Homo sapiens: one gene and its partners. The protein of the gene in region 1 purifies or fractionates together with the protein of each later gene. This does not show direct contact. Each region holds a gene or a part of one and is shown in the gene's direction. Other genes may lie near its edges. The genes, in order: SLC22A6, ATL2, SFXN5 and SLC25A23.

What was found.
Region 2: the proteins of SLC22A6 (region 1) and ATL2 purify together in Homo sapiens (affinity purification with mass spectrometry; 2 studies listed by BioGRID and IntAct, with this or other methods). This does not show direct contact.
Region 3: the proteins of SLC22A6 (region 1) and SFXN5 purify together in Homo sapiens (affinity purification with mass spectrometry; 2 studies listed by BioGRID and IntAct, with this or other methods). This does not show direct contact.
Region 4: the proteins of SLC22A6 (region 1) and SLC25A23 purify together in Homo sapiens (affinity purification with mass spectrometry; 2 studies listed by BioGRID and IntAct, with this or other methods). This does not show direct contact.

What each region holds. Positions count from the first base shown.
Region 1 is NC_000011.10:62,976,060-62,981,968, reverse strand, and holds the end of SLC22A6 (solute carrier family 22 member 6), read left to right. Parts: coding exon 1-127; intron 128-585; coding exon 586-709; intron 710-865; coding exon of another isoform or gene 866-868; coding exon 869-984; intron 985-2,020; coding exon 2,021-2,235; intron 2,236-2,372; coding exon 2,373-2,481; intron 2,482-4,581; coding exon 4,582-4,785; coding exon of another isoform or gene 4,786-4,824; intron 4,825-5,087; coding exon 5,088-5,175; 3' UTR 5,176-5,372; downstream 5,373-5,909. UniProt on the Homo sapiens protein: Secondary active transporter that functions as a Na(+)-independent organic anion (OA)/dicarboxylate antiporter where the uptake of one molecule of OA into the cell is coupled with an efflux of one molecule of intracellular dicarboxylate such as 2-oxoglutarate or glutarate.
Region 2 is NC_000002.12:38,293,442-38,297,299, reverse strand, and holds the end of ATL2 (atlastin-2), read left to right. Parts: intron 1-599; coding exon of another isoform or gene 600-614; intron 615-709; coding exon of another isoform or gene 710-817; exon of another isoform or gene 818-1,186; coding exon 1,187-1,306; 3' UTR 1,307-3,346; downstream 3,347-3,858. UniProt on the Homo sapiens protein: Atlastin-2 (ATL2) is a membrane-anchored GTPase that mediates the GTP-dependent fusion of endoplasmic reticulum (ER) membranes, maintaining the continuous ER network. It facilitates the formation of three-way junctions where ER tubules intersect.
Region 3 is NC_000002.12:73,061,705-73,068,742, reverse strand, and holds part of SFXN5 (sideroflexin-5), read left to right. Parts: intron 1-7,038. UniProt on the Homo sapiens protein: Mitochondrial amino-acid transporter. Transports citrate. Does not act as a serine transporter: not able to mediate transport of serine into mitochondria.
Region 4 is NC_000019.10:6,442,763-6,449,800, reverse strand, and holds part of SLC25A23 (mitochondrial adenyl nucleotide antiporter SLC25A23), read left to right. Parts: intron 1-5,499; coding exon 5,500-5,650; intron 5,651-7,038. UniProt on the Homo sapiens protein: Electroneutral antiporter that mediates the transport of adenine nucleotides through the inner mitochondrial membrane. Originally identified as an ATP-magnesium/inorganic phosphate antiporter, it also acts as a broad specificity adenyl nucleotide antiporter.

The sequences.
Region 1 (5,909 bases):
CCTTGATTGGCTATGTCTACAGCCTGGGCCAGTTCCTCCTGGCTGGTGTGGCCTACGCTGTGCCCCACTGGCGCCACCTGCAGCTACTGGTCTCTGCGCCTTTTTTTGCCTTCTTCATCTACTCCTGGTGCGTGGGGCCTAGGGTTGGAGGTGGTTGCCACAGGAGCCCAGAGGCTGCAAGGGACAGGACATCTCCCAGAGCTCAGCACACATCCCATCCCACAAATGTAGAGAAGGTCAAACCCAGTCCAATGCCTCTGTGTGACAGATAGGGAAACCAAGGCTGTGGGGAGAAGGCTTTGCCCCAGGATATCCAATTCTCTGGCTTCCCCCACTCCGTTCTCCAGCCTGCCTGCTCTGCTCCCCCTACCCGCAACCAAGAGCTGAGCTTCTGGATTGGGGAATATGTCATTACCAAGCTGGGCACTGCCTCGTGGTCCTAGAGAGAGGGATTTGGCAAGGCCCCTGGGTTCCCAACCTTAAATAAAATCCCATCGCAGACCCCTAGAAAGCCCAGCCCCAGCCCCCCACCCAGCTGACTGGAACTGAAGCCATGCTGACACCCACCCCCACCCCCGCTCCCAGGTTCTTCATTGAGTCGGCCCGCTGGCACTCCTCCTCCGGGAGGCTGGACCTCACCCTGAGGGCCCTGCAGAGAGTCGCCCGGATCAATGGGAAGCGGGAAGAAGGAGCCAAATTGAGTATGGAGGTGAGATCCCCTGAGACTTCCCATGATAACCTCCCAGGGCTTCACCCCCAAACCCCAAACCCAGGACCCAGGGCCCAGGGAACTCCTCTAAGTAAGGGATTAGGCTGGGAGGAGCTCCTTGGGAGGATCCCGGGCCCTGAGCTCTGCCGGTCCCAGCAGGTACTCCGGGCCAGTCTGCAGAAGGAGCTGACCATGGGCAAAGGCCAGGCATCGGCCATGGAGCTGCTGCGCTGCCCCACCCTCCGCCACCTCTTCCTCTGCCTCTCCATGCTGTGGTAGGCCCAGAAAGACAGACAGACTGAGACAAAAGGCTGGCTGGGGCAGGAGGAGACACAATGGGTGAAAGAGGCCAGAGAAGAGGGCAGGAAGGTCAGCAGACCTGCTGTGAGAAGCAGTAACCCCACACTAGGGATCATCCTTAGGAACCAGATGCCCCCAGCCTTGACTCAGTCCCAGTCTCCACACGGGACACCAGTCTCCCCATCTTGTCCTTTCACTAGCCCTGTTCCAATGTGGAGACACCTCATCAGGACCAGTGGGCTCCAGAGTCAATAGACTTACATCATGAAGGCAGAGACCAGTCTGGCTTGCAAAATATTCATAGATTTTACTGGCCTGATGGTGCCTGCCAGAAACACAGGCACAGGCAACAAGATGACTAAAACTCATCTCCAAAGAACACTTTGGCCAAGGCCAAAGAAAATCTTCCTTTCCCTTTGCAACACTCCCCATTATCCTTCCTTCCCATCACCATAGCAATCCCATGACAGTTAAGGGAAACATAGTCAGAAGGAACAATCCTGCCAATGAATTATTTGCTTCCAATTTGGGATTTATTCTCAGTCATGGGCTCTAGCCAATAATCTTGAGCTTCGTTTTTTGGGCTCTTGACATCTTAAAAAGCACAACACTCATCCCAGGACCATGGACAGGTCCCAGAAGGCTCTCTCTACTCTCCCAGCTGCCTTGGCCCTGAAGATGGCTTGGGTATGCACCTGCCCTCCCTCAGTCCAGCATCAATTGATAAGATGAAAACTAAACCTATGTAAATCCTACAGAGCAACTAAGTGAAAATTCCCCCAATTAACTGCAACCCTAGTTATCAGAAGATTGGCAAATTTGGAGTATTACAGGACTACCTCAATACTTAAACTCTGCAGTTTAATGATATGGTTAAATGAAGAAATATTAGCCAAGGCAGATTCCAGCTCCTTAAGCAGGGTACCCAATGCAGTTCCCCCACTGTTTTGAAAGAGCACCCCACTTTAAGCCTTCCTAACAAACTCCATACTCCTCTCTTCTCTCTGCTAGGTTTGCCACTAGCTTTGCATACTATGGGCTGGTCATGGACCTGCAGGGCTTTGGAGTCAGCATCTACCTAATCCAGGTGATCTTTGGTGCTGTGGACCTGCCTGCCAAGCTTGTGGGCTTCCTTGTCATCAACTCCCTGGGTCGCCGGCCTGCCCAGATGGCTGCACTGCTGCTGGCAGGCATCTGCATCCTGCTCAATGGGGTGATACCCCAGGGTGAGCACCCACGAGCACCTTGGCCCCTTCTCCTCAGCCCCATCCCCACACATAACCCAATATCTCAGAAGGGAGGGGGCCAATTCCTCCTAGCCTCCACTCCCAAGCTCCTGCTATCCCCCCTTCTTTCTCTCTAGACCAGTCCATTGTCCGAACCTCTCTTGCTGTGCTGGGGAAGGGTTGTCTGGCTGCCTCCTTCAACTGCATCTTCCTGTATACTGGGGAACTGTATCCCACAATGATCCGGTGAGTGGGAGCCTAATGGGAGAATGACAGCCTTTTCCTGGGGAAAGACATTCTTCTGTGCACAGGTCAGACCCCAGAGCTAAATCAAGTACATCCCAGCCCAAAGGCCCCTCCCAACACTCATCATTGCAAGGCACATAGTAGCCACTGAGTACACACCTCATGGCCTAGCTAACACAGGTGTTACTGTCCTCTAAGCCCTTACGGGACCCTAGAAGATCTCAAAAGTAGCCACCAACTGGGGCAGGGTAAGGAACCAAGAAGACACATCTCAGAGACAACAAATTGAAGTCTTCCTTTAATCTCCAAAACACAAATTAGAAGCTGCCACCACATCTACATTCCATCTATAAACCAAGTGATATATCTGAAAGCAAAGGCCACAAACATGAAAGCAATTTCCTATCTCAAGATTCACTCCTGATAATATCCCAGCAATAGGAATAAATATAGTATTGCTTATTTGAGTCCTAAGATGGAGGGCAGTATTTTTGCATTAAGAAACAAGAATGGGGGCCCGGCACGGTGGCTCATGCCTGTAATCCCAGCACCTTGGGAGGCCAAGGCAGGTGGATCACAAGGTCAAGAGATCAAGACCGGCCGGGCACGGTGGCTCACGCCTGTAATCCCAGCACTTTGGGAGGCCGAGGCAGGCAGATCACGAGGTCAGGAGATCGAGACCATCCTGGCTAACAAGGTGAAACCCCGTCTCTACTAAAAATACAAAAATTAGCTAGGCGTGGTGGCAGGCGCCTGTAGTCCCAGCTACTTGGGAGGCTGAGGCAGGAGAATGGCGTGAACCCGGGAGGCGGAGCTTGCAGTGAGCCAAGATGGCACCACTGCACTCCAGCCTGGGCGACAGAGCAAGACTCCATCTCAAAAAAAAAAAAAAAAAAAGAGATCAAGACCATCCTGCAAGACCATCCTGGCTAACCAACATGGTGAAACTCCGTCTGTACTAAAAATACAAAAATTAGCTGGGCATAGTGGCACACACCTGTAGTCCCAGCTACTCAGGAGGCTGAGGCAGGAGAATAGCTTGAACCTGGGAGGCGGAGGTTGCAATAAGCTGACATCGCGCCACTGCACTCCAGCCCCAGCAAGAGAGTGAGACTCTGTCTCAAAAAAATAAAATAAAATAAAATAAAATAAAATAAAATAAAATAAAATAAAATAAACAAGAATGGGATGCAAAATTTACATGAGATAACAAAGAAATGTCAGGCTTCCCTGGGCTACTTGGAGTGGGCCTGTAAGGTCTGCAAAGTGGAACCCTGAGGGTCATGGTCCTGTGCCCTTACCAGATTTCAGATGAAAGAGCAATAATCCGAAGCACTCACTATGTACCAGGCAGTGTCTTAAACTTTTCACAAATATTAATTCATTTAATCTGCATAACAAGCCATTGTGGTAGGCACTATCATTATTCCCATTTACAAACGTGAAAGCTGAGGCAAAGAGAGGTTAAGTGACTTCTCCAAGATCATGCAGCTAACAAATGGTGAAGCATGCATTTGAACCCCAAGCAGTATGTCTCCTGAGTCAATGTTTTTAACCTCTTCTCTCATGAAGAATGTTCTTAACATGCAGATTCCAGCTCCCTCCCCCTAGGGATTCTAATCCAATAGGTGTATGTTGGCTTGTTGCAACTATAACACAATTCCTCCAGGTGATCTGAGAACCATAGGTGTACCACAACTGAATCATTTGACAGCTGCAGAAACTGAAGCCCACGGAGGGAAAGGGGCTTGCCCAAAGTCACACAGCAAGTTAAGGGCAAAGGCAAAATTCAATCTTAAGTCTCCTTATTCTCTGGCCAGAACCCTTTCCAACTTCTCTTTTTCAAAAGATCACCAACAGCTGTGGTGGGGGAGGACCATTTGAGCCCAGGAGTTTAAGACCAGCCCTGGCAACACAGAGACCCTATCTCTACAAGAAAAAAAAAAATCGCCAAATTGGTTTGCTAATCAAATGGGGAAGAGAGGAGGTACCGGGAGTGTCCTGGGGGCTGAGCCTGAGCTGCCACCCTCCAAATGGGACCAGCATCTGGGCATTCATGCTGGAACTCTAACCAACACCCATCTGCTGCGGGCCCTGCAGGCAGACAGGCATGGGAATGGGCAGCACCATGGCCCGAGTGGGCAGCATCGTGAGCCCACTGGTGAGCATGACTGCCGAGCTCTACCCCTCCATGCCTCTCTTCATCTACGGTGCTGTTCCTGTGGCCGCCAGCGCTGTCACTGTCCTCCTGCCAGAGACCCTGGGCCAGCCACTGCCAGACACGGTGCAGGACCTGGAGAGCAGGTGGGCCCCCACTCAGAAAGAAGCAGGGATATATCCCAGGTAACACATGCAGGGTGGGGTGGTATTGAGACTCAAGCCCAGGCTTCCTCTTCTAGCCCAAAGCTCTGTGTCCCTTTGTCCCCAATTGCCTGAGCTTCTCCTAGAATCCTTCCTGGGGATCCCAGCTCCAGGGAGCAGTAGGTATTTGGGGCAGAGAGCAGGTGTCCAGGCATAGCTGAGCGGAGACCCCCTGGGAGCCTCCATATCCCGGCCCTGGCCTGGAGGCTGCATACCCAGAGTGCCATTCTTCTGCCGCCCTGCAGGAAAGGGAAACAGACGCGACAGCAACAAGAGCACCAGAAGTATATGGTCCCACTGCAGGCCTCAGCACAAGAGAAGAATGGACTCTGAGGACTGAGAAGGGGCCTTACAGAACCCTAAAGGGAGGGAAGGTCCTACAGGTCTCCGGCCACCCACACAAGGAGGAGGAAGAGGAAATGGTGACCCAAGTGTGGGGGTTGTGGTTCAGGAAAGCATCTTCCCAGGGGTCCACCTCCCTTTATAAACCCCACCAGAACCACATCATTAAAAGGTTTGACTGCGCACCATCTCTCTGTGTCTCTCTTGTCTCAAAAGGAATGGCCACTCCATTTTAGTCAGCTTCCAGCCCAAGAGGCCATACAGTCCCCTCCCACCCACTCCATCCCCGGGACTTTACAAACCATCCCAGAAAATTAGAAAAGACTCTTGCCTTTGCCCCTTTCTATCCCTCCCTCTTCCCTCCCCCATCCTCTAACCTATTCAAATATTTCTGTGAGATTTAGCTAAATATCTAATGCTCCTCCCTTCCCTGTCAGGCTGGAAACTGACAAGGGCTGAAATGACAGGCTGAAATGAAAGCAGCCAATCAGAGGCTTTGTTTCAAGCTCCTCCCACTCTGAGAGCAGATGGGAACCTCTGACAGCAAAGGAGAAGAAAAAGGACAATAGCTGGCCAGGTGTGGTGGCTCACACCTGTAATCCCAGCACGTTGGGAGGCCGAGGCGGGTGGATCACTTGAGCCAGGAGTTCAAGACCAGCCTGGGCAACATAGCGAGACGCTGCCTCTATTTAAAAAAAAAAAAAAAAAAAAAAAGACAACAGCTA
Region 2 (3,858 bases), on another chromosome or scaffold:
CTTATTTTGAAGATCTAGGATATGCAGGTCCATGTTTGTTTTGGCTATAAACTTGAAGACCGAAGAAGCAGACCATTTTTTTTGAAGAAAGTTGATTGGATATTGACTTTTCTTGTAATGATGTTATTTTATAAAGTGACCCACTATATTAATTTGGATTTTGTGTTTACTCTTTAGAGAAATGCTCTATTCAGATCCGATTGGGAAGTTTATGTTTGGATATTTATTCTATTTAAATTTTTATCTCAATCTCACTACTTGATGTTTCTTTGATATCTTCTAATAGAAGATGGATGCAAAGCTATCGCAACTTCACTTTTAAGAAAAAATTAGCTATTTTAAAATTTTGGATCATTTTCTGCAATATAATTTTCAATAATTGTACAATATCTTCTTTTGAGAAATATTCATCTCTTAAACAGCATTGATTCTAGGATTTTGGAGGTACCATTATTACAAAACAATTAAATGGAAGAATCTAAAGTGTATAAAATCATTTTCAGTATAGTTTAGGTAAGGTAATCAGCTAGTCAGAGATCTGTGCTGTGTCAACAAACCTTGTCTAAATTTCTTTGCATTTCTCTTTTCTTTTGCTTCAGAGGAGTCCCAGGAAGGTGAGAAACCTACAGTCTCAAATTCTTGTAGTCTTAAACTCTTTAGCTTCGAGGCACTCTGATTCATTCTCCTAACAAATCACTTCATGTTTTAGGTGTTTTCCAAACTGTTTGAAGTTACTAGACGTCGAATGGTTCACCGTGCTCTTTCATCAGCACAGCGACAGAGACTGTCATCCAACAATAACAAGAAGAAAAATTAGACAGTATTTTTAACCTTTTTCTCTATCTGAAGTGTTCACACTTACACATGTAGGACAATAAGCAGGACCGTCTGGGCCGGTCTGCATAAATGCTGTATACATACCAGATTTGATGCTGCATATAGGGTATGGAATTGCACATCCATCTCATAGGAATTGTAAATGGTTTGAATAAGAGGAAAGTAATTTTTGTTGCATTATAAAATGTCTAGTAGCATCATAAGTTTTTTTGAGAGAAGCATCTTTTTATTTCCCATATTCCTGGTTATTTTCATCATTGCTTTGAATTGAATTTTTATATCTATTTTTATATGTAACTCTTTTTTTACCTCATGTTTTTGTTTGTTTTGCACATTTCTCATACCACAGGTATTGAAGCCCCTGGGTGATAATTTGATGGAGGAAAACATAAGGCAGTCTGTAACAAACTCTATCAAAGCAGGCCTGACTGACCAGGTGTCTCATCATGCCAGATTAAAGACAGACTGACAGTTCATCTCCTCACGGACTCCACTCTCTTTTTTTTTCATGCTTGCTGTACAATGAGAACTCAAATAAAAATAAACCAAAGTTTACAATCAACTGTAGAAGTAGTTTAGTGTAACTGGCTTCACAGATGGCTGCCACAGAGTGTGAAGATTGTTTGTTAGTTTTAAGCATTCTTTTAATGGCTCCTAAGACATGCAGATGGACTGAGGAGCATTGGTTAATCATGCACCTTTGTGCCATGTTTAACTCTTTTATTTCTTTTTACTTAATCTAATGTTAGTGAATTTGTCTTATGTAAAAGGATATTTCAGGGAAATATTTTCAGAAATCTATTTAGAGTCTCTTTAACACAGTGTCCCATTGAAATTTTAATTTTTAGAGAATTTATGAATCACTGTTTCAAGAACCAGATTGGAAAGACAATGAAGCCTTTATTGAGCCACTACATTAAAAGTATATATTGCTTTACTGCCTTCAATACCAGTATTACATCAATGCATGTATCAGAAACTTCACAGAAATTACATGGCAACTCTTGTAGCTAAGAAAGTAATTCTGAGGTGTACATTTGTCTTGCCTTTTTAAATTTATAAACTTGCCCTAAAAGGAGATGCATATCTGGGAAACTGAACTGTCTTTTTGCAGTTTAGCCTTCATGTATATAAAATATGCCATTAATTTTATTGGGGAAGAAATTCCATCCAAAAATGTTGCCTACAGCTATGAGTTAAGAGTGTCTGTACAGTGTGTAGCTTTTATTTTCTAAAATCACAGATAGGGCATGTATATGACTTATAAATATATAAATACGATTTTGTATTAAAAGTTTTGTAGTTTATGGCAAAATCTGGTCCTGTGGTAGGCTAAATAAGTACTGTCCCTGTGAAAGGAATGTTTGTGGCTCATGTCAGTGTGTGAATGCATAGACAATTTGAAGTTTTTGATATATTTGTGATATTTATCTTGAGCACTGCAATCTCACCCCCCCCCCGCCCACCAAGGGAATTCAATGGGAATGTTTATTGTGACTTTGTCCTCTGTTGCATTTTAAAGTTATTTCCTGTAATTTATTTTCAGTACATAATTAAAAATTTGTTGTATATATAAAATGAAACTTGTGATTCTTTTTTAAGGAATTTTTCAAGTATGTATTCCACTTCATAAACCACATTTGTTTATAGTGAAAAGAGCATGAGCAGGAAACACCCCAGTTGAGAGCTCTAAGGCATTGTACCTCAAAACTAAGCTTGTAAAAAGTTACTTTTCTGTGTCTGTCTCTATAAGGGAAAACCTATGATTAGCCTAGTTGTAGATGGGGATTGTTAATTTCTTTCTCTCTCTTTTTTTTTTTTTGGTGGTATATGTAAGGCTAGCATTTTTTCAGTACTTTTGTGGTCTTCTTTGTGAACACCGATTAAAGTACCTAGTTTTGTTTGTTTCTTTTTTGAGACGGAGTCTCTCTCTGTCACCCAGGCTGGAGTGCAGTGGTGCGATCTTGGCTCACTGCAACCTCCACCTCCTGGGTTCAAGTGATTCTCCCGCCTCAGCCTCCTGAGTAGCTGGGACTACAGGTGCGTGCCACCATTCCCGGCTAATGTTTTCTATTTTAAGTAGAGATGGGGTTTCACCGTTTTAGCCAGGATGGTCTCAATCGCCTGACCTTGTGATCCGCCTGCCTTGGCCTCCCAAAGTGTTGGGATTACAGGCGTGAGCCACCGCGCCCGGCCCTTAGTTTGCTTTTTAAGCGAAGAGAATGCAGGTGTTGAGTTGCATGTGTGAAAACTCTGAATTTACTTTGGTTGATACATCTTCGCTCCCACTCCCATTCAGATTCTGTTTTTATATGGATTGTATTTGTTTTCATCTGTATTAAATTGCTAACTTATCTGTTCTTAAAGAATCCACCTGAAAAGTGTCTTTTTATTTCTTCTGCCACCCTGTTTTATGAATGCTGTGGACTGTTTTTTATGAATGAAAAAATAATTTGTTGTATAATAGCAGATTTTCTGAAATTAAAGACAGCTTACTTTTAAAAAGTTATAAAATCTAGACCATTGGCTTTCTTACATTTCTTGTCAGAAAAGAGTGCTTTACTCAAAGAAGACAATTCTCTACAGGATTTAAGTCCATTTCACACTTTTAAGCTTTAGCCTAAACATTCATGTCCTGGATTCCCTCCTTTCCTCTAACTTGACCAGAATGGATCTGCGCATCTCAGGTTTTTTCCATTCGTGTGATAGTCGTGGAGTGAGGATGAAAATTAGCTTGAGTTGCTGTGCATCTGGTAGCCATCTTCTCACTTGGCCAGAGATTACTCATCAAATGACTATTGTACTTGGATTCTGTTGGGAGCCTCTGCCATAAAGAGAATGCGACTTTGGGGAGTCTTCCAGTTATTGGTTCCTGTCAAAGCTAGATTGGGGGTTTCCCAGGCAGCACAGAGAATTGCTCCCTTACCTTCTCTACTGAAGTCTTAGATCCTAGGAACTCCTGTCTTTCAGATTTACATTTTGCTGGAAGTTAGACCGAGGAATTGAGCTGCCCTTAATGTA
Region 3 (7,038 bases), on another chromosome or scaffold:
GACTATGGACTTTGCAGAAGTGGGGGCTGTGCCTGTCTTTACTCCCTGTTGACTCTCCAAGGCTCAGCACAGTGCCTGGCAGTTAAGAGGTGCTTAATGAAGATTTGTTATATACATGAATATCCTGGAGACAATTCAGTAGGGCTTTGCGGACTTGAATTAAATTGACTTGTAAGGTTGTGACTGGGGAGGTGGACCAACTTTTCTCCAAATTGTCCCTTAGGGATCTTACAAAATTGCAAGTGGTGTCATGTTTGACAGTGTAAGGTTCATCAGTGCTGAGACATCCCAGAGTTGGGGTGTCTCTAAGGAGGTGAGTCTAAAGACACAAAGGTTGGCTACATATGTACTGGGTTGATGAGCTCCTTTAGGGCCCAGCCCACATCTCTGTGTCCTGCCCTGGCATGTAATAGTTGTGTAATATATATGCTCATAGTACCTTGTGCTGGCCTGACAGAAGCCTGCTTCAAGGTGGTTGATAATCCAGGGTTCATTCCCAGCACCCATGCCAGGGACATGACCCTTATTCCCCAATTAATCTCACCGCTTTCTGCAGGATTTGTTACCAAGGTCTTTCCTTATTCCCTGGAGTCGCTCTAGAACTCCTCTTTATTCCCTCAAGTGTCTCCCTGTGCAAGAGGACGGGCAGAAAGAGGGTGGAGGGTGTGGAGGGTCAGAGTGTGAAGAAAGGGTGATGAGTGTTGGTGGTCTGTGACCATCTTTCTCCCCATAAGATGGTGACGATAGCCAAGCATCATTCCAGCCTTTTTGTGTATTGACTTACTGAATTTTCACAACAACCCTGTGAAGCAGGTGCAATGATCTCCAATTTATGGGTAAGAAAACTACAGCACACAAACAGATTAAGTAAATTCCCAGGCAGTCTGTCTCCAGAGTTCATGTTTGTTTGTTGGTTTGTTGTCAACTTTTTATTATGGAAGTTTACAAACATACTAATCTGGAGACAGTTGTCAGTAAACCCCTATGCACCCATCATCCAGCTTCAACAGTTGCCAACTTAAAGCCGGCCTTGTTTCATCTATGCACCCACCCCCCACAACCCAATCAATGAATTACTCTGAAGCAAAGGCCAAACATCCCATCATTTCATTGAACCCACTAGTAGGTATCTCTAAAAAATAAGGACTCTTTGGTTAGCTTTTTAAAAATTTTTTTATTTTGGAATAATTTTAGAGAAGTCAAAAGACAACAAACAATTCCTGCCTAGCCCTCACCCATTGTCCTCTGTTATCATCTTGCATTGCCACAGTACATTTTTCAAAACTAAGAAACTAACATTGGTACATTATCGTTAACTACACTCCAGACTTCATTGAATTTTACTACTTTTTTTTACACTAATGTCTCCTTTCTGTCCCAGGATCCCATCCAGGAACATGTTACATTTAGTCATCATGTCTCTTTAGCCTCCTCTGGTCTGCGGCAGTCATAGTACCTGGGATAGTTTCTCAGACTTTGCTTGTTTTTGATGACCTTGACAATTTTGGAAGATATTTTATAGAGTGTCCCTCAACTTGGGTTGCCTAATGTCTTTCTTTTGGGTTTTGAGGTAAGAATATCACAGAGGTGAAATGCTCTCTTTATCACATGATATTGGAGGGTTTTTTGATTTGTTTAACATAACCATGTCCTTAACACACCTAAAATCATTATTTGTTTTTTCTTTTTTTTTAGAGACAGGGTTTCTGTCTGTCACCCACAATAGAGTACAGTGGAACAGTAATTAATGGCTCACTGCAGCCTTGAGCGCCTGGGCTCAAGCAATCCTCTGGCCTCTACCTCCAGAGTAGCTGGAACTACAGGGGTGTGCCACCATGCGTGGCTATATGTATTTTTTGTTTGTTTGTTTTCTTTCTGTTTTTTCTTTTCTTTTCTTTTTTTTTGTAGAGACAGGTGTCTTGCTATTTTGCTGAGGCTGGTATCAAACCCCTGGCCTCTAATGATTGTTCTGCCTGGCCCTCCCAAAGTGCTGGGATTTACAGGCATGAGCCACCATGCCTGGCCCATTAATTCTTAATATCATCAAGTAACCAGTCGCTATTCATATTTCCCTGACCATCACTTAATTTATTTGTAGTTGATTTGTTTGAATCAGGATCCCATAAGTCCCACATATTATTACCTTTGGGTATTTCTCTTTTGTATCTTTTATTTTTTTTTTTTGGAGACAGAGTCTCTCTCTGTCGCCCAGGCTGGAGTGCAGTGGCATGATGTCAGCTCACTGCAACCTCCGCCTCCCGGGTTCAAGTGATTCTCCTGCCTTAGCCTCCTGAGTAGCTGGGATTACGGGCGCATGCCACCATGCCTTGCTAATTTTTGTATTTTTAGTAGAGATGGGGTTTCACCATGTTGGCCAGGCTGGTCTCAAACTCCTGACCTCAGGTGATCCACCCGCCTCGGCCTCCCAAAGTGCTGGGGTTACAGGCGTGAGCTACCACACCCGGCCTCTTTTGTATCTTTTAATCTGTTAGTTCTGTCTTCCTTTTTTCCCTTCCTATTGAAGAAGCAGTTGTTCGTCCCTGTAGAATTCCCCACCTTCTCAATGTTGCTGATGGCATCTCTGTGGTAGTGGTTAGCATGTTCCTTTATCCCTTGTTTCTCCTGTAAACTTAAAGTCTATGCATTTAACCACTACTCCAGCTGCCTAGTGAAAGGGAGGAGATGACAGCACAGCACCCAGGGAACCTCTGAGACCTGCTTTGCTTCCTTTCCTCTTCCTTTTCTGGTCATTTCCTCTCCTGAACTCACTGTTTTTCCTTCCGGCCCAGACACCATGTTTGCCATGTTGGGGCCCCAGGACAGGAAACAAACACACATACTTTCTCCCATTTGTGTTTCAGTCCATCTGTAAATAAATTGTTGTCCAGGACCAGGCGCGGTGGCTCATGCTTGTAATCCCAGCACTTTGGGAGGCTAAGGCGGGCAGATCACTTGATGACAGGAGTTCGAGATCAGCCTGGCCAACATGGTGAAACCTGTCTCTACTAAAAAATACAAAAAATAGCCCTTCAAGATTCCCCCACATGGCCAGGCACAGTGACTCATGCCTGTAATCCCAGCACTCTGGGAGGCCAAGGCGGGCAGATCACTTGAGGTCAGGAGTTCAAGACCAGCCTGGCCAACATGGCAAAACCCTGTCTCTACAAAATACAAAAATTATGTGAGCATGGTGGCAGGCGCCTATAATCCCAGCTACTCAGGACTGAAGCAGGAGAATTGCTTGAACCCGGGAGGCAGAGGTTGCAGTGAGCCGAGATTGCACCATTGCACTCCAGCCTGGGCAACAAGAGCGAAACTCTATCTCAAAAAAAAAAATTGTTGTCCAGGTGCAGTTGGCTCATGCCTGTAATCCCAGCACTTCGAGAGGCCAAGGCAGGAGGATTGCTTGAGGCCAGGAGCTTGAGACCAGCCTGGACAACATAGTGAGACCCCATGTCTACAAAAAATTGAAAAACTAGCTCGGCGTGGTAGCATGCACCTGTAGTCCCAGCTACTTGGGAGGCTGGGGCAGGAGGATCCCTTGAGTCCAGAAGTCTGAGGCTGCAGTGAGCTATGATCACACAACTGCACTCCAGCTGGGCAACAGAGTGAGACCCTGTCTCAGAAAGAAGGGAAGAAGTTTTTTAACAACTTCTGGCGAGGTGTGGTGGCTCATGCTTGTAATGCCAGCACTTTGAGAGGCCAAGGTGGGCAGATTGCTTGATCCCAGAAGTTTGAGACCAGTCCAGGCAACATGGCGAAACCCCGTCTCTACAAAAAATATAAAAATTATCCAGGTGTGGTGACACATGCTTGTAGTCCCAGCCACTCTAGAGGGTGAGGTGGGAGAATCACCCGAGTCCAGGAAGTGGAGGTTGTAGTGAGCTATGATCGTGCCACTGCACTCCAGCCTGGGTGACAAAGTGAGACTGTGTCTCAAAAATAAAACAAAAATTCCTTGCTCCTTTGGAAGTCTCACTTATCTGCTGAGATGACTGGGGGTATGAGTGTGCTGGGGACCAAGGCCTAGTGGGGCAGAGCAGGCTGGTTGCACAGGGCTCCCTCTGGGGTATGGAGAGCTTGCTGGGCAGACAAATGCTTTCTTCACTTCAAGGTTGGGAGATTTGTGTGGGCTGAGAGTTGGGAGGCAGGGGGGATATGTCTCATAGTTTGCTTGAAATAAAGTTCTAAAATCACAGTACCTTGCAGGTGGTTATATATTTTAATCATTTACTTCCTATAGGCGAGACAGTGAGTTTTTTCTAGTGCTGCTCCTGGGCTGGTTTGTGCAGTGGAGAGGGGTCATAATTTCCAAGAGTCACACTGGGCAGGTTTTAAAATAGACACTGATGCCTGGAGGCCACACCCAGAGCAATAGAATCAGAATCCCTGGGTGTATGGCCTGGTTTTTGAAGTACCCAGGTGGTTCAGGGTGCAGCTGATTCAGGACTACTGGGCTGGCCCAGCCTTTCTGCTTTGGGCTGTAGGTTCAGCGAGTATATTATTCCTAATCGAAGAGCAGTAATTTGGAGGTCTGGTGTGTGTAGTTGCGGGGCGGTGTCAGCTTCTTCTGGGATCTTTGCCCTCTGCTGCTGCTCCCAAGGCCTGCTCTTCCCTGGGGGGCTTGCAGATGGGAGAGAGCTGGCTGGTGGAGGTGGGAAGGCAGCTGCTGCTGTAGGCCCTGGCTCCTGCTGAGAATTAGCTGACTCACCTTTCTTATGAAGGGAAAGAGAAGGAATCACTTGGCTGACTCATTCTTCCAGTAAAGAAAAAGGGGAGGAAAAACATCCACCGATTGTGCGATTGGGTAAAGATGGGAGCTGAATTTGGGAGGGAGGCTATACATTTTGAACTATTGAGAAAATAAAAATGAACTGAGACTGAGAAAGTATAACCTTCCTTGCCATTCATCAGACAGGGAGGACAGACACAGAGCCAGCTGCAAAGAAAGAATGTTTCTCACGAGGACCCACAGGATCTATAAAGTATCGAACAACCTTCTTCCAGTAACCACCTCTTTCATACTCATGTCTCACTCTATAAGGTCCTAGACTGCCAGGAACTTTGCTGTTTAAGTCATATCATTAGGAATGAACCATCTACCTCTTGATTGGCAGGTCTAAGTCACTTTGCCTCGGAGAATCAACCCATAGCTGCAAATAAGGGGTTTCTGGTCACAACGTTTCTCATTAATCTTAACTTTATAGTTTTTAAGGAAACAAGACCCTGAGTGGTTGGTCCAGACCTATGATGACTCCTTTTCACACAGTCTTGCTTTGCTTGGAGCCTATTGAAGCACTGCTTCATTTACATTTTACTCTATCTTCCTTAAATTATATACCAAATATTTTTCTTTGTTTGGCAAGGCACCCCATAATTCCTCTGCTGTGGTGCTTTTCTTTGTTGAGTGAGTCAGTAAATCTGACTTGGTCAGACTATAGGTTTGTCTCTATAGTGGGTGGGGTGGGGGTCTTAGGGCAATCTGTACCTGACATTTCCAATTCAGAGTCTCTTTCTTGAATCTCAGTCCAAATGTTTGCTGAAAAATTATATCTGGAAGTCCCTTTAAATATCTCAGACTGATATGACCAATACAGAGTTTTTATCTTCTTTCCACTTAATCAGTATGCTTCTTCCTGTCCCTATTCTGGTTAACAAACATTCATGTCTCACTAGAAAGTGAGGCATCATCTGTGGCTGCTCTTCCTCATTTCCCCACAGTCGGTCAGCCTTGCTACCTCCAGGACCTAGCACAGTGCTGGGCACACAGTAGATCCTCGGTAGTGGGTTGAATGATGAATGAATGAAGAGACCACAGGAGTCTGGTGCAGCTTCTGATCCTAAGCTTTATGCTTTCATCCTCTTGCATATACCCTCCTCTGCTAGGTAAACTCATCCATCCCTTGGTCCCAGCTCCTCTGGGACACCTCCTTGACTTAAACTAGGAAGACATAGGAAGAACTCTGTGTGTCCCCAGTATACTTCGCGATGCTTCATTTAAACTCTGATCAGTGTTTTGTAGTTACTTGTTTATAGTTATTAGTCTGTTTTGATGGGCTGTGAGCTCTTTGAGGGCTTGTTCATTTGGTGTCTGTCCCCTGAGCCTAGCTCATTAGGAGTTTGTAGGTGTCTGTGGAGCAAAATGCCTTATCTGGGAGTCTCCCCCAGTAGCTATGGTCGAAAGTGACACAAGAAGGCTGGCAGGGCTGGGACAGGATGAAGACCGTGCCAGACCATAGGACAAGTCAAAGGCTGAAGTTTCTGCTGGACCATCTTCAAGAAGTTGCTTCACTCAGGCCATTCTACTTCCAGGTTCTCTCCTCTTCCCCTGCTCATCCTCTTTCCTCCTTGGACCACTAGCTGCCATACTGTTACCCTTTCCTAATCCTGCCCTCCCTTCAAAGCCCAGCCCAGCTCTACCCCACCCAGAAGCCTTGAGGCCATTGGCTGCTCATCAGCCCACTCATGGATTCCTGTGGCAGAAGACCCTTCCTTCCAGATATGTAAGGAGACTTCGAGCCAGGGAGGATAAGGAAGGAACATTCAATAGCCCATGTCCTTCAGGAGCTCTTAATCAAGTATAATACTTAAAATATCAGTTCATGTTTTACTTTATTTTATTTTTGGAGACAGGCTCTCACTCTGTCACCCAGGCTGGAGTGCAGTGGCATGATCATAGCTCACTGCAGCCTCGAACTCCTGGGCTGAAGTGGTCCTCCTACCTCAGCCTCCTAAGTAGCTGGGACTACAGGTGTATACCACCATGCCTGGCTAATTTTTAAAATTTTTTGTAGAGATGGGGTTTCACTGTGTTGCCCAGGCTGATCTCAAACTCCTGGGCTCAAGTGATCCTATCACTTCAGCCTCCCAAGTAGCTGGGATTATAGGAGCAAGCCACTGTGACTGGCTTGCATTTTACTCTAAATATGTATTTTTAAATGTAATATCATTTCTGTATATTAGGTATAATATTGATTTTTTTAATTTCAAAAGCAATTTAAAGATCTGGAAATATAAATCATACATAAGCCTATTACC
Region 4 (7,038 bases), on another chromosome or scaffold:
GCACTTTGGGAGGCCGAGGTGGGAGGATTGCTTGAGCCCAGGAGTTCGAGACCAGTCTCTATAAAACAATTTAAAAATTAGCCAGGTGGCCAGGCACGGTGGCTCACGCTTGTAATCCCAGCACTTTGGGAGGCCGAGGCGGGTGGATCACAAGGTCAAGAGATCGAGACCATCCTGGCCAACATGGTGAAACCCCATCTCTACTAAAAATACAAAAAATTAGCCAGGCATGGTGGCGGGCACCTGTAATCCCAGCTGCTTGGGAGGCTGAGGCAGGAGAATGGCATGAACCTGGGAAGCGGAGCTTGCAGTGAGCTGAGATCGTGCCACTGCACTCCAGCCTGGGTGACAGAGCAAGACTCTGTCTCAAAAAAAAAAAAAATAGCCAGGTGTGGTGGTGCACACCTGTAGTGCCAGCTACTCAGGAGGCTGAGATGGGAGAATTGCTTGAGCCCAGTACGCAGAGGTTTCAGTGAGCTGTGATCATGCCAATGCACTCCAGCTTCAGCAACAGAGCAAGATCCTGTCTCAAAAAAAAAAAAAAAGAAAGAAAGAAAGACAGAAAGAAGACACAGTCTTATTATTTAATGCATTCTTTACCCAAAAAGGGACTTTAAAAGTCTAAGAGGTTTTAGAAACCTTGGAGTTTCAAAATCTGTGTTTGTCCCTTAAAGGCTCCGAGAAGTCTCTCAGTAAAGTGATTTAACTTTTTTTGTTTTTAACCCAGTGCTGGCCACATTAATCTAGTCTTTAGAACTTTTTTTTTTCTTTTTTTTTGAGACAGAGTCTCACTCTGTCACCCAGGCTGGAGTGCAGTGGTGTGATCTCAGCTCACTCCAACCTCTGCCTCCCAGATTCAAGCAATTCTCCTGCCTCAGCCTGCCGAGTAGCTGGGATTACAGGTGTGCGCCACCACGCCAGGCTAATTTTTGTATTTTTAGTAGAGACGGGGTTTCACTATGTTGGCCAGGCTGGTCTTGAACTCCTGACGTCAAGTGATCCGACCACCTCGGCCTCCCAAAATGCTGGAATTGCCAGGTGCAGTGGCTCACACCTGTAATCCCAGCACTTTGGGAGGCTGAGGGGGGTGGATCACAAGATCAAGAGATCAAGACCATCCTGGCCAACATGGTGAAACCCCATTTCTACTAAAAATACAAAAAATAGCTGGGCGTGGTGGTGGGCACCTGTAATCCCAGCTACTCGGGAGGCTGAGACAGGAGAATCGCTTGAACCCAGGAGGCGGAGTTTGCTGTGAGCCAAGATCGCGCCACTGCCCTCCACCCTGGGTGAGAGAGCGAGATTTCATCTCAAAAAAAAAAAAAAATGCTGGGATTACAGGCATGAGCCACCACACCCGGCCGTCTTTAGAACTTCTTTTCAACAGATTGATCTTAATAATAACCCATTAAACATCTATTTGGCAAGTGCTGTTCTAGACCCAAAAGAAGGCTTCTAAAATTTCAAAGGCAATAATGTTAAGTACTTGCCTATTTTACCCAGTCTGTGCCTGGGCTAGGCATTACTAATCCATCACAGCACTGAGTCCTGCTCAACACAATTCCAGTTTCAGGCAGCAATTTCTGGTGGATTAGAATTGGCATAGGAAATGAAACCTATAAGCCTCTCCCAGCCGCAAAGCAAAGAAGGTCTTGTTCTTACAGTCACCTTGGCAGAAGGCTTCAGAAGGGATTAGCCACCCTAAAGTCTTCAGGTGCACAGTTCTAGATTCACATACAGCTGTGAATGTTGGTTCTCACCTTTATTTTGTAGCTTTGGGCAAGTAACTTCCCGAGCCTCAGTTTCTTTTCTATAAAATAGAGATAATAGGGCCGGGCATGGTGGCTCACTCCTGTAATCCCAGCACTTTGGGAGGGAGAGGCAGGCAGATCACTTGAGGTCAGGAGTTGGAGACCAGCCTGGCCAACATGGTTAAACCCTGTCTTTACTAAAAATACAAAAATCAGCCGGGTGTGATTGTGTGTGCCTGCAATCCCAGCTACCTGGGAGGCTAAGACAGGAGAATTTCTTGAACCCGGGAGGTGGAGGTTGCAGTGAGCTGAGATTGTGCCGCTGCACTCCAGCCTGGGCGACAGAACGAGACTCCGTCTCAAAAAAAAAGCAAAAAATTAGCCAAGCCTGGTGGCACATGCCTGTAATCCCGGTGGCATAAGCCTGTAATCCCAGCTACACAGGAGGCTGATGCAGGAGAATCACTTGAACCTGGGAGGTGGGGTTGCAGTGAGCCGAGATGGTGCCATTGCACTCCAACCCAGGCGACAGGGTGAGACTGTGTCTCAAAAAATAATAATAAAATAAAAATAAAGATAATTAGCCGGGTGTGGTGGTGCACAGCTGTAATCCTGGCTACTCCAGAGGTTGAAGTAGGGAGGATCACCTGAGCCCAGGAGGCGGAGGTTGCAGTGAGCCGAGATTTCACCACTGCACTCCAGCCTGGGTGTGAGAGCGAGACCCTGTCTCAATAATAATAATAATAGTTTTGGTCTTAGTTTGAGATCCTTCCAAAACAGACCCTGAAACTGGGACGTGAGGACAAGTGATTTATTGGGGAGGTAATGAGACAGGGAGTCAATGCACACAGTATGAGTATGTTAGTTTCCTAGGACTGCTGTAACAAAGTATCACAAACTGGTTGGCTTAAAACAACAGAAAGTTATTGTCTCACAGTTCCAGAGGCCAGAAGTGCAAAATCAAGGTGTCAGCAGAGCCATACTCCCTCTCAAACTTGTTAGGGGAGAATCCTTCCTTCCTTCCTTCTTTCAGTTTCTGCTTGTTCCCAGCAACCCTGGACATTCTTTGGCTTGTAGATACATTCACTCAAATCTCTGCCTCCGCTGTCACCTGGCTGTCTTTCTCCGTGTGTGTCTCTGTCTTTCTCCTCTACGGACACCAGTCATACTGGACTAAGGGTCTACCCTGTTACCCTACTCATCTTAACTAATTAGATCTGCAAAGACCCTATTTCCAAAGAATGTCACCTTCTAAGATACTGGGGGTTAGGACATCAACATGTTCCCCCCCAAAGGAGGGACATGATTCAACCCGTAACAGTATGTTATCAAGCAAGTTACTATTCCTAGCAAATGGAGTTCCAGCCCTCTAGAGATCTGTGGGAGGCAGCATAAGACATGCTGCACCAGAGAGATGAGGGAGCTGGGGTATTGATCCACCAGGTCAGTCTTTTGAAGGTTGCATCTGGAGATGCTAATTTCCCAGGGCTTTCTGCCCATTCCTAAGTGGTCAGAGCCGGCTGGCCTGCGTTCAGAGAAAGTCCACAAGCAAAGTCTTTGGGTAAATGTTGGCAGTAAGAAGTCAGCAGGTCTGAATTGGAGTGGGAAGGGATGAAGGTGGTGTACTCACAGCATCTACCACAGGCAGTGTCGTTGGAGAGTGTTTTTTTGTTCATTTGTTTGTTTTTGAGACAGTCTTGCTCTTATTGCCCAGGCTGGAGTGCAGTGGTGTGATCTTGCCTCGCTGCAACCTCCGCCTCCCCGGTTCAGGCGATTCTCCTGCCTCAGCTTCCTGAGTAGCTGGGATTACAGGTGCCTGCCACCACACCGGCTAATTTTGGTATTTTTAGTAGAGATGGAGTTTCGCCATATTGGCCAGGCTGGTCTCGAACTCCTGACCTCAAGTGATCCACCCATCTCAGCCTCCCAAAGCACTGGGATTACCAGTGTGAGGACGCCAGGCCCGACCTTTTTTCTTTTTGATACTGAGTCTCACTCTTGTCGCCCAGGCTGGAGTGCATCACGGCTCACTACAGCCTTGAATTCCTGGGTTCAAGCAATCCTCCCACTTCAGCCTCTTGAGTAGCTGGGACCACAGGCATGCACCATCACATCCAGTTTTTTTTTGTTTGTTTGTTTGTTTGTGTGTTTGTTTGTTTTTGTAGAGACAGAGTCTTGCTATGTTTCCGAGGCTGGTCTCAGGCTCCTGGGCTCAAACGATCCTCTTGCCTCGGCCTCCCAAAGTGCTGGGATTACAGGCGTGAGTCACCATGCCTGGCCTTTTGTTGCTGTTGCTGTTTTTAATTTATTCTTTACCCTTCTTGCAAGCAAACAAGTTATAAACTTAGTGTCTTAGAACAACACGAATGTATATCCTTACAGTTCTGGAGGTCAGAAATCCAAAATGGGGTTCTTACTGGGCTTTATAAAATCGAGATGTTGGCAGGGCTGCGTTCCTTCTGGATGCTCCAGGAGGAAATCTGTTTCGTTGCCTTGAAAAAGCTTCTAGAGGCCGCCTGCACTCCTTGGCTTGTGGTCCCTTCTTCCATCTTCAAAGCCAGTAGCATAGCATCTTCCAATCTCTCTCTCGCTTCTGCTTCTGTCTTTACACCTACTTTTCTAACTCTTAGAAGGGCCCTTGTGCCGGGCATGGTGACTCATGCTTGTAATCCCAGCACTTTGGGAGACCGAGGCAGGTGGATCACCTGAAGTCAGGAGTTTGAGACCACTCTGGCCAACATGGTGAAACCCCATCTCTACTAATAATACAAAAATTAGCTGGGCGTGATGGCACACGCTTGTAATCCTAGCTACTTCGAGGCTGAGGCAGGAGAATCGCTTGAAGCCAGGAGGCGGAGGTTGCAGTCAGCCGAGATTGCACCATTGCACTCCTGCCTGGGCAACGAGAACGAAACTCCGTCTCTGAAAAAAAAAAGAAGGGGCCTTGTGCCAGGCATGGTGGCTCATGCCTGTAATCCCAGCACTTTGGGAGGCCGAGGGGGAAGGATCGCTTGAGCCCAGGAGTTCGAGACCAGCCTGAGCAACATAGTGACACTCCATCTCTGTAAAAAGAAAAATAATTAGGCCAGGTACTGTGGCTCATTCCTGTAATCCCAGCACTTTGAGAGGCTGAGGCAGGCGGATCACAAGGTCAGGAGATTGAGACCATCCTGGCCAGCACGGTGAAACCCTGTCTCTACTAAAAATACAAAAAATTAGCCAGGTGTGGTGGCACGCACCTGTATTCCCAGCTACCCGGGAGGCTGAGGCAAGAGAATCGCTTGAACCAGGGAGGTGGAGATTGCAGTGAGCCAAGATCACACCACTGCACTCCAGCCTGGGCAACAGAGCAAGACTTCATCTCAAAATAATAATAATAATAATTTTTAAAAAAAGAAGGACCCTTGTGATGGCATTGGGCCACTCAGATAATCCAAAATAATCTCATCTCAAGATCCTTAACTGAATCCCATCTGCAAAGTCCTTTGTGTCATCTTGGGTAACATATGCAGAGGTTCCAGAGATTAGGGCATAGTCAGTACAGGGGACCCTTATTCCACCTACCAGAGAGGGTCCAGATGAGGACTGGGTGAGGGGACGCAGGGAAAGGGCTGGCCCGGCCCCTAGGAGGTACCAAGTGCTCAGCTAGTAGCACCTGTCATGGGATACAGAACCGGCCAGCAGGCCTTTGAAGCCAGGGTCCTAGGGTCACCCACCCCAACCCTCCCTACTCCCTTCTCCACTCCAGACTCTGAAGAACTGGTGGCTTCAGCAGTACAGCCACGACTCGGCAGACCCAGGCATCCTCGTGCTCCTGGCCTGCGGTACCATATCCAGCACCTGCGGCCAGATAGCCAGTTACCCGCTGGCCCTGGTCCGGACCCGCATGCAGGCACAAGGTGAGGCCTGGGCGGGAGGATGGGGCAGGGGGAGTCTCATCGCTTGGGCCCCAGCTTCTCCCAAGTAGAGCCCTGGGCTGGGACCCTCCTGGATTTCGATGGGCTTCTCTGGGCCTCCGTTTCCCCATTTGTGACATTGAAATGGGAGTCCTTTACTTTCATGGAGCTGAGGATTAACTAGGATAACAGGTGCAGTGGGTACAGGAAGAGATCCCTTGCAGACTTAGCTGGGATGTCGTTGCTGGCAAATGTCTAGCATTTCCAGGCTGGTAACTTGAACTCTTAATTTGTAAGCCTGGGTTATCGTGAGCGGGAGGCTAGGAACAGGGGTAGGGAGCAGTCAGGGCCAGAGTGGTTATTGTTTTTGTCTGTATTTTTCTTTTATGAATTATTTCCCCCCGTCCCCTCCACCACTACCCTCCCATTCTCCCTGAATCTGTTTTGAGAATTTTCTTGAGAATTTTAGTGTTTGTGTTTTGTGATTTTCACTGGAGATGTGTCAGTGTACAAGACGGACACGGTCCCCACCCTCATAGAGCTCACAGGCCGGAGAGGAAGGAAGATGCTAAATAAATCATTCTGGAATTAAGTATTGATTTAGGGTTGTATAAAGGGGAGAAGGAGGCCGGGCACAGTGGCTCACATCTGTAATCCCAGCACTTTAGGAGGCCAAAGAGGAAGGATCATTTGAGTCCAGGAGTTTGAGACCAGCCCGGGCAACATAGCAAGACCCCATCTTTTTTTAAAAAATGAAGAAATAAATTAGCCAGGCGTGGTGGCAGGTGCCTGTAGTCCAAACTACTTGGGAGGCTGAGGCCGGAGGATCACTTGAGGCTGCAGTGAGCTATGATTATGCCACCACACTCCAGCCTGGGTGACAGAGTGAGACCCTGTCTCAAAAAAGTGGGTGGGAGCCAGGGGTAGTGGCTCACGCCTGCCATCCCAGCACCTTGGGAGGCCTAGGTGGGTGGATCACCTGAGGTCAGGAGTTCGAGACTAGCCTGACCAACATGGCTAAATCCTGTCTCTACTGAAAATACAAAAATTAGCCGGGTGTGATAGCAGGCGCCTGTAATCTTAGCTACTCGAGAGGCTGAGGCAGGAGAATCACTTGAACCCAGCAGGCATAGGTTGCAGTAAGCCAAGTTCGTGCCATCGCACTCCAGCCTGGGCAACAGGAGTGAAAACTCTGTCTCAAAAAAAAAAAAAAAAAAAAGGGCTGGGCATGGTGGCACACGCCTGTAATCCCAGCACTTTGGGAGGCCGAGGTGGGCGGATCACCTGAGGTTAAGAGTTCAAGGGCCGGGTGTGGTGGTTCACGCCTGTAATCCCAGCACTTTGGGAGGCCGAGGCGGATGGATCACCTGAGGTTGGGAGTTGGAGACCAG